Homo sapiens: one gene and its partner. The protein of the gene in region 1 purifies or fractionates together with the protein of each later gene. This does not show direct contact. Each region holds a gene or a part of one and is shown on either strand. Other genes may lie near its edges. The genes, in order: TLR6 and TLR4.

Evidence for each region.
Region 2: the proteins of TLR6 (region 1) and TLR4 purify together in Homo sapiens (co-immunoprecipitation; one study listed by IntAct). This does not show direct contact.

Annotation. Positions count from the first base shown.
Region 1 is NC_000004.12:38,829,203-38,833,027, forward strand, and holds part of TLR6 (toll-like receptor 6 precursor), read right to left. Parts: intron 336-3,825; 5' UTR 272-335; coding exon 1-271. UniProt on the Homo sapiens protein: Participates in the innate immune response to Gram-positive bacteria and fungi. Specifically recognizes diacylated and, to a lesser extent, triacylated lipopeptides.
Region 2 is NC_000009.12:117,710,674-117,714,498, reverse strand, and holds part of TLR4 (toll-like receptor 4 isoform A precursor), read right to left. Parts: intron 2,111-3,825; coding exon 1-2,110.

The DNA of each region.
Region 1 (3,825 bases):
GTAGCTGGATTCTGTTATGGGAAAGTCTCAAAACTGTCAACTCTGATAGAAAGCTCATGTCAGAGACCTGAAGCTCAGCGATGTAGTTCTGAGACATATCTAAGACTTTGGTTTTCAGCGGTAGGTCTTTTGGAACATGAATAAGACCTCTTTTTGACTTGTCTACTGCAAATTCATTTCCGTCGGAGAACTGGATTCTGGTTCCAACTATTATGATCATAAGGCAAACAAAATGGAAGCTTTTAACAATAGGTTCTTTGTCTTTGGTCATGATGTTGCAGTGGCTATCCTAAAGGGTTGTTCTTCTTCAGAGCATCTTGATATGAGTCCAAATTCTAGAAATATAATATACACTAAGATTAATAAAGATCGGATGGTTACTCTCAAACCTCCACTTACTAACCATAAAATCTAAATGATTTCTTCATTCACTAGTAGAGTCATTTCTGTCCCCATAATTTAATGTAATACTTTTTATAACCAGTTATATAGCTTGCTCATGCCAGAAGGGGCAATATAGGCCTTGTTATCAAAGAATTGTGGTTGTGTGTTTTGACCTGTCTGGTTGCTGCCTGAGGGATTCACACTCAGGGGCTTGCCTTTGTTTTGTACACCTTAGAACTTTCTCAGGGCTGGAACAGCCTTCTGGCTGGTGTTTGCTGTAAACAATTAAAGGCAAACATACTAGCTGCAGCCACCTGAGCAAGGGCTAACAGAGGGGGCAAGCAGCAGACACATCAAAAAGTCTGGGAAATATGCAAAGATATATGGAGAAAGATATGTGGGAGAAAAAAGGCTGAGGAAATCTCTGTATATACCAGGGAGTCCAGAAGTCCACTCACGTGCCCAAGGCTGGACGCATGTTCAGAGGAGACCTGAGAAAATCCTAAACTTCACCTCTGGCTCATCTTTAGCTTCCATGCATGCAGAAAGTGAAGGCTAAAGCAGAGCTGTGAATAGACTGGCTAAGCATTGAGAAAGTGATCCAACACAGCCAACCTGCAAAGATCAGGGGTGTTTTTGTTTTTGCTTTTGCTAGTTTATTTGGTTTTTGTTTTTGCTCCAGATGTTTAAAGAAATCTCAAGTTACTGGCTGACCACTAAGCTAACTGGACAGAAAATGTAATAGCCACACATGACAAAGAATAATCTTTATAAAAATTATTTAGAAAAGTCATTAAACAAGCAACTATAAGCCACAAGAAGCAACAATACACCCTGGGAAAGGGAGGCCCGGCACAGTGGCTTAAGCCTATAGTCCCAGAACTTGGGGAGGGCAAGGCAGGTGGATTGCTTGAGTCCAGGAGTTCAAAGCCAGCCTGCGCAACATAGTGAAACTCCATCTCTACAAAAAATACAAAACTTAGCTGGGCATGGTGGCGTGTGCCTATAGTCCCAGCTACTTGGGAGGCTGAGTGGGAGGATTGTTTGGGGCCGAGGAAGTCGAGGCTCCAATGAGCTGTGATTACACCACTGCACTCCAGCCTGGGTGACAGAATGAGACCCTGTCAAAAAATAAATAAATAAATAAATAAAACACCTCTGGGAAAGGGGGACAGAATTTGATTTCTAGAGTTACCTCATTGTAGTGTTTAAAATGTCTGATTTAAAAAAATAAAAATCAAAACAAAATAATCACTAGCCCCCAGATTTGCCAGTGGACTTGCTCTACGTTTTGCCCTGAAATAACACAAACCTTGCAAAAAGCAAATGGAAAGAGATTGTTATCTTTTTGATTGTGTAACTTGGCATTAAAGGAATCTCTAATTTATTTGTTTAAAAAAATTAGCCATGCAAAGAAACAGAAAGTATTGTTCATTCACAGGAAAAAAAAAAAAAAGAAATTAAAAGAACAAAGCCAGATAACTGACACCACCTAACATTGAGACTTGCTACAAAGCTACAGCAATCAAGGCAGTGTGGTTTTGGTGAAAGAATAGACAAATAGGTCAAATGACCAGAATACAGAGCTTAGAAATAGACCCACAAAAAAATAATCAACTGCTGTTTGACAAACGAGCAAAGGCAACTCAGTGGAGAATGGATAGTCTTTTCAACAAATGGTGCTGGAACAATTAGACCTCCACATGCAAAAAAAAAAAAAGAAGAAGAAGAGAAAGAATTTAGACGCAGACCTTACAGTTTTCACAAAAATCAGCTCAAAATTAACCATAGACCTAAATGTATAATGCAAAACTATAAAATTTCCAGAAGATAACATAGGAGAAAATCTAGGTGACTTTGGATTTGGTGATGACTTTTGAGATACGCATCAAAAACATAATCCAAGAAAGAAAACACTGTTAAGTTGGACTTCATTAAAATTAAAATTTTTGCTTTGCAAAAGACACTGCAAGAGAGTGAAAAAGACAAACCACAGACTCAGAGAAGATATTTGCAAAACCCATATATGATAGGGACTTGTATCCAAACTATGCAAAGAACTCTTAAGCTCCACAATAAGAAAACAAACAACCTAGTTTTTAAATGGGCACAAAAATCTAAACAGACACCTCACCAAAGAAGATATGTAAAGAGCAAATACACATATACATAGCTATTTGACATCATATTTCATCATGGTTTTGCAGATTAATACAGCAATGAAATTACATTACACTTATGAGAATGGGTAAAATCCAAAAACAACATCAAATGTTGGTGAGGATGTGGAGCAACAAGAACTCTCTTTCACTGTTTGTGGGAATGCAAAATGGTGCAGCCACTATGGAATGCAGTTTCTTATAAAACTAAGCATAGTCTTATCACACAATCCAGCAAATCACATTCCTGGGTATTTAACCAAAAGAACTGAAAATTTATGTCCACATAAAAGCCTCCATGTGGATGTTTATAGAAGCTTTATTCATAACTGTCAAACATTGGAAGCAACAAGATATCCCTCAATAGATAAAAATATTAACAAACTGGTACATTCACACAATAAAATACTATTGAACAATTAAAAAATGAGCCGGAGAAGCATTAAAATGGCTGAATAGAGGCACCTAGCCCTCACCCCCTCTGCAAAGAAGGACCAAAACAGTGAGCAGATAATCACACATTGAATGAGCATCTAAGAGAGAACACTGGAATTCAGCGGAGAAGTGACAGTGCACCTCTGAGGCATGGGAGAAGAGGGAAGTGAAGCAGCCAGCCCAGCTGGGACTAGCTCAGAACCAGGAGGAACTTCCCATTCCAGGGAAAGTTTAACTGAGAGATCTTCAGAGGTCAATGTTTCCACTATGGACTCCTGTAATCCTAGCCATGAGCTAGCTCCTTGGCCTTCACATGCCCTGGGGCTGTCTGGAATATATGCAATCACATTGTTCCACAATGGGACTTCACATTGGGTCCCACATACCCCATACCCTGAGACCCAAACAGCTTCAGCATAAGGCTCTTTTAAGAGCCCAGCCCTCACCATACACATCCTGTTCTGGGGCCCAACAACCCTGAATCTCCACACCCCTGAAGCCCCACTGATATTCTCCTACGTCCACCTAGAGGGCTACAGCATTGTAATGCCAGCTAAGATCAGCAGTGCAGCTAGGTCCCCAGCACTCTAGCCCATGCAATGCCCCGCATCCCAGGAAACAGGAAGCACAGTGCACCTAGTGGCTTTCCCTGGGACAAAGGGAGTCAAAGTGTGCATTCCCCAGAGCCTCAGAGTTACCTGCCCAGGGCCACCGCCACTTACAGCAACCCCATCTTCCCTAGCAGCAGGACTACGACACATCTACACATGCCTCCAAGGGGCCTGAGGACAGGTCCACCATGCCCTTTGCTGCTAGTGCCTGCCTGCCACTGCCATGGCAGGGCAGT
Region 2 (3,825 bases), on another chromosome or scaffold:
GCTGAGAAGGCGGTACAGCTCCACCTGCTGCCTGAGCAGGGTCTTCTCCACCTTCTGCAGGACAATGAAGATGATACCAGCACGACTGCTCAGAAACTGCCAGGTCTGAGCAATCTCATATTCAAAGATACACCAGCGGCTCTGGATGAAGTGCTGGGACACCACAACAATCACCTTTCGGCTTTTATGGAAACCTTCATGGATGATGTTGGCAGCAATGGCCACACCGGGAATAAAGTCTCTGTAGTGAAGGCAGAGCTGAAATGGAGGCACCCCTTCTTCTAAATTCTTTACTAGCTCATTCCTTACCCAGTCCTCATCCTGGCTTGAGTAGATAACAAAGGCATCATAGATGTTTTCACCTCTACCATACTTTATGCAGCCAGCAAGAAGCATCAGGTGAAAATAGAACTTATAGACCAGAACTGCTACAACAGATACTACAAGCACACTGAGGACCGACACACCAATGATGGTCTTATTCATCTGACAGGTGATATTCAAACTCAGCACAGGCATGCCCTGCTTATCTGAAGGTGTTGCACATTCCATTCGTTCAACTTCCACCAAGAGCTGCCTCTGGTCCTTGATCCATTGCAGGAAACTCTGGTGTTCACAAGTACAAGCAAAGTCATTCTGAGTAAGATTTAAGAAAGCTAGACTACTTGGAAAATGCTGTAGTTCCTGTTTTTTGGAAGTCATTATGTGATTGAGACTGTAATCAAGAACCTGGAGGGAGTTCAGACACTTATAAGGAAACGTATCCAATGAAAAGAAGTTGTTGTGGCTCATATTTAGTACCTGAAGACTGGAGAGTGAGTTAAATGCTGTTGGAGACAACTGCTCCAGTTGACACTGAGAGAGGTCCAGGAAGGTCAAGTTTCTCAGCTCTGTGAAGATATCTGGAAGGAAGTTTTCCTGGAAAGAATTGCCAGCCATTTTCAAGACTTCGAGACTGGACAAGCCATTGAAGATGCCATTGAAAGCAACTCTGGTGTGAGTATGAGAAATGTCAAGGTAAATGAGGTTTCTGAGTGATAGGAATACTGAAAACTCACTCATTTGTTTCAAATTGGAATGCTGGAAATCCAGATGTTCTAGTTGTTCTAAGCCCAAGAAGTTTGAACTCATGGTAATAACACCATTGAAGCTCAGATCTAAATACTTTAGGCTGGTTGTCCCAAAATCACTTTGAGAACAGCAACCTTTGAAACTCAAGCCATTTCTACTGAGATCTAGAAACTCAAGGCTTGGTAGATCAACTTCTGAAAAAGCATTCCCACCTTTGTTGGAAGTGAAAGTAAGCCTTTTGAGAGATTTGAGTTTCAATGTGGGAAACTGTCCAAATTTACAGTTAACTAATTCTAAATGTTGCCATCCGAAATTATAAGAAAAGTCTTTTACCCTTTCAATAGTCACACTCACCAGGGAAAATGAAGAAACATTTGTCAAACAATTAAATAAGTCAATAATATCATCGAGGTAGTAGTCTAAGTATGCTAATCGGAATTCTTCAATGGTCAAATTGCACAGGCCCTCTAGAGCAGATTTGTCAAACTTTTCCAAGTTTCCTTCATTTCTAAATTCTCCCAGAACCAAACGATGGACTTCTAAACCAGCCAGACCTTGAATACAAGTTTTCATTACATTTAAACTATCAAAATTATTTCTTAAAGTCAGCTTATGAAGCCTAATTTCTTTAAATGCACCTGGTTGGATAAAGTTCATAGGGTTCAGGGACAGGTCTAAAGAGAGATTGAGTAGGGGCATTTGATGTAGAACCCGCAAGTCTGTGCAATAAATACTTTGAATCTTGTTGCTGGAAAGGTCCAAGTGCTCTAGATTGGTCAGATTAGAAAAATACTCAGGTAATTTGAAAGATTGGATAAGATTGTGAGCCACATTAAGTTCTTTCAAAGTTTTGAGATGTCCAATGGGGAAGTTCTCTAGAGATGCTAGATTTGTCTCCACAGCCACCAGCTTCTGTAAACTTGATAGTCCAGAAAAGGCTCCCAGGGCTAAACTCTGGATGGGGTTTCCTGTCAATATTAAGGTAGAGAGGTGGCTTAGGCTCTGATATGCCCCATCTTCAATTGTCTGGATTTCACACCTACAGGAATAAAAAGACATTGATTATCTAATATTTCTGCTGAATAAGAACCTAAAATAGAATATTAATCCTAGTCATCCAGCTCTTCATACAGATGTGATGGGTCATATGATTGTGCATAGGCAAAGACATCAAGCAGGACAGATGATGATGGAATAAGCAAATAAGAAGCCCCACAGACTGAGTATTATCATACTGGCTGCAATGATAGGCTCTTTTTTGTCATGTTAGGCATACATGATAAGCAGAGGAGAAAATCCATAAGAAGGAAATCAGTTAAAGATCAATAATTGACATATATAAAGATTGTGCAGTTGATAAAGCATGTAATAGCCTTGGATCAAGTTTAGCCATTTTCTGTCACACAAAATTGTGATTATACATCTGATTGGTACAGATAATATGGATAGTTGTTAGTTGGTAGCCAAGATAAATGACTGGTAAATATCAATTTCAGAGATACGAAAAATTACACATAAGTGTCACAGATACTCTTAATGTTTATGAAAAGTGCTTACATGACAGCTAGATATTTGAAAGTTCTTGTTATCAGAGGTAAATGCTTGTAACAGGTGATAGGAGCGAGTTTTGTGGAAAAAAGTGAAAATTATGTGCTATAAGAGTTCACATCCAGAGAACCGTTGTGGACCAAGAAAATCAAAGTAGGTTTCTCTGAGAACACTTAAGTTGAAAATTGAAAGATGAGTAGAAGTTAACAATAAAAGGAGGTGAAGTGAACAGCAAACACAAAAGCCCCAAGGTTGACAGAAAAAAAATGACACAAGGAGGAATCATGACAAATAGCTTCCATGGTTGGAGAACAGAGATGAAATTGGAGTGTACAATATGGAGTTGTGGAGAAAGAAGGTTCCCAATTAGGCAGAGGTTTACCAACCAGATAAAGGGTTTTGAATTTTATCCTAAAAGAAATGAAAGCCATGCTACACACAATGTTCAGAGACATGTCCTAGAGACAGGGCTTTGATGCAGCCAGCAAACAGCAAGCCAATGAAAAATTCCTTTCAGCATTGCAGGTGCTTGTCAGTTACAATGTACAAATAAGTTCTTTCTTAATCCAGCCTGAATTACATTTACAATATTCCCCACCCATTTTATTTAGCTTCTTCAGGAGTTTCCTAGACAATAAAAGCATTGTGGTCCAAGCTTTTGTTATTTATTGGTAACTAGATAAAGGATAGGCAGTATAGTAGAAAGAACGCTGGAAGAGTGGACAAAAGAGCTTGGGTTTGGTGTTTCTGCAGTCCTCTCCTACTGTGTGATCTTGAGTACCTCTTTTCCTCTCTAGGTTTTAGTTATCACATTTATAAATCAAACAGCTGAACTTGATTATTTTTGAAGTTCTTTCTTTCAATTATATGATTGTTATAGCCCATCATTCTATCTCTGCATTGCTCTATACATTAGGTGAGAAGGAAAGGGTCTTGCTGTGTCTCTATATCATTACATTGGTGATAATCACTTTAGAGAAGTAGAGTATTAAGACAAAGAAAACATTTAAGTTGGATTCTGGAGATGTGAACTTAAATCTCTGGTCTGTGGCTAACAAGCAATGATAATGTATATAAGTCATTTAAATTATTCAAGCTTCAGTTTCCTCACCTATAAAAAGAAATATATATATATTTCTATAGGGGAAAGAAGGCTGCCTGGTCTATCACAAAGCATTCTTACAAGACTAGTTGAGTTACTGTATG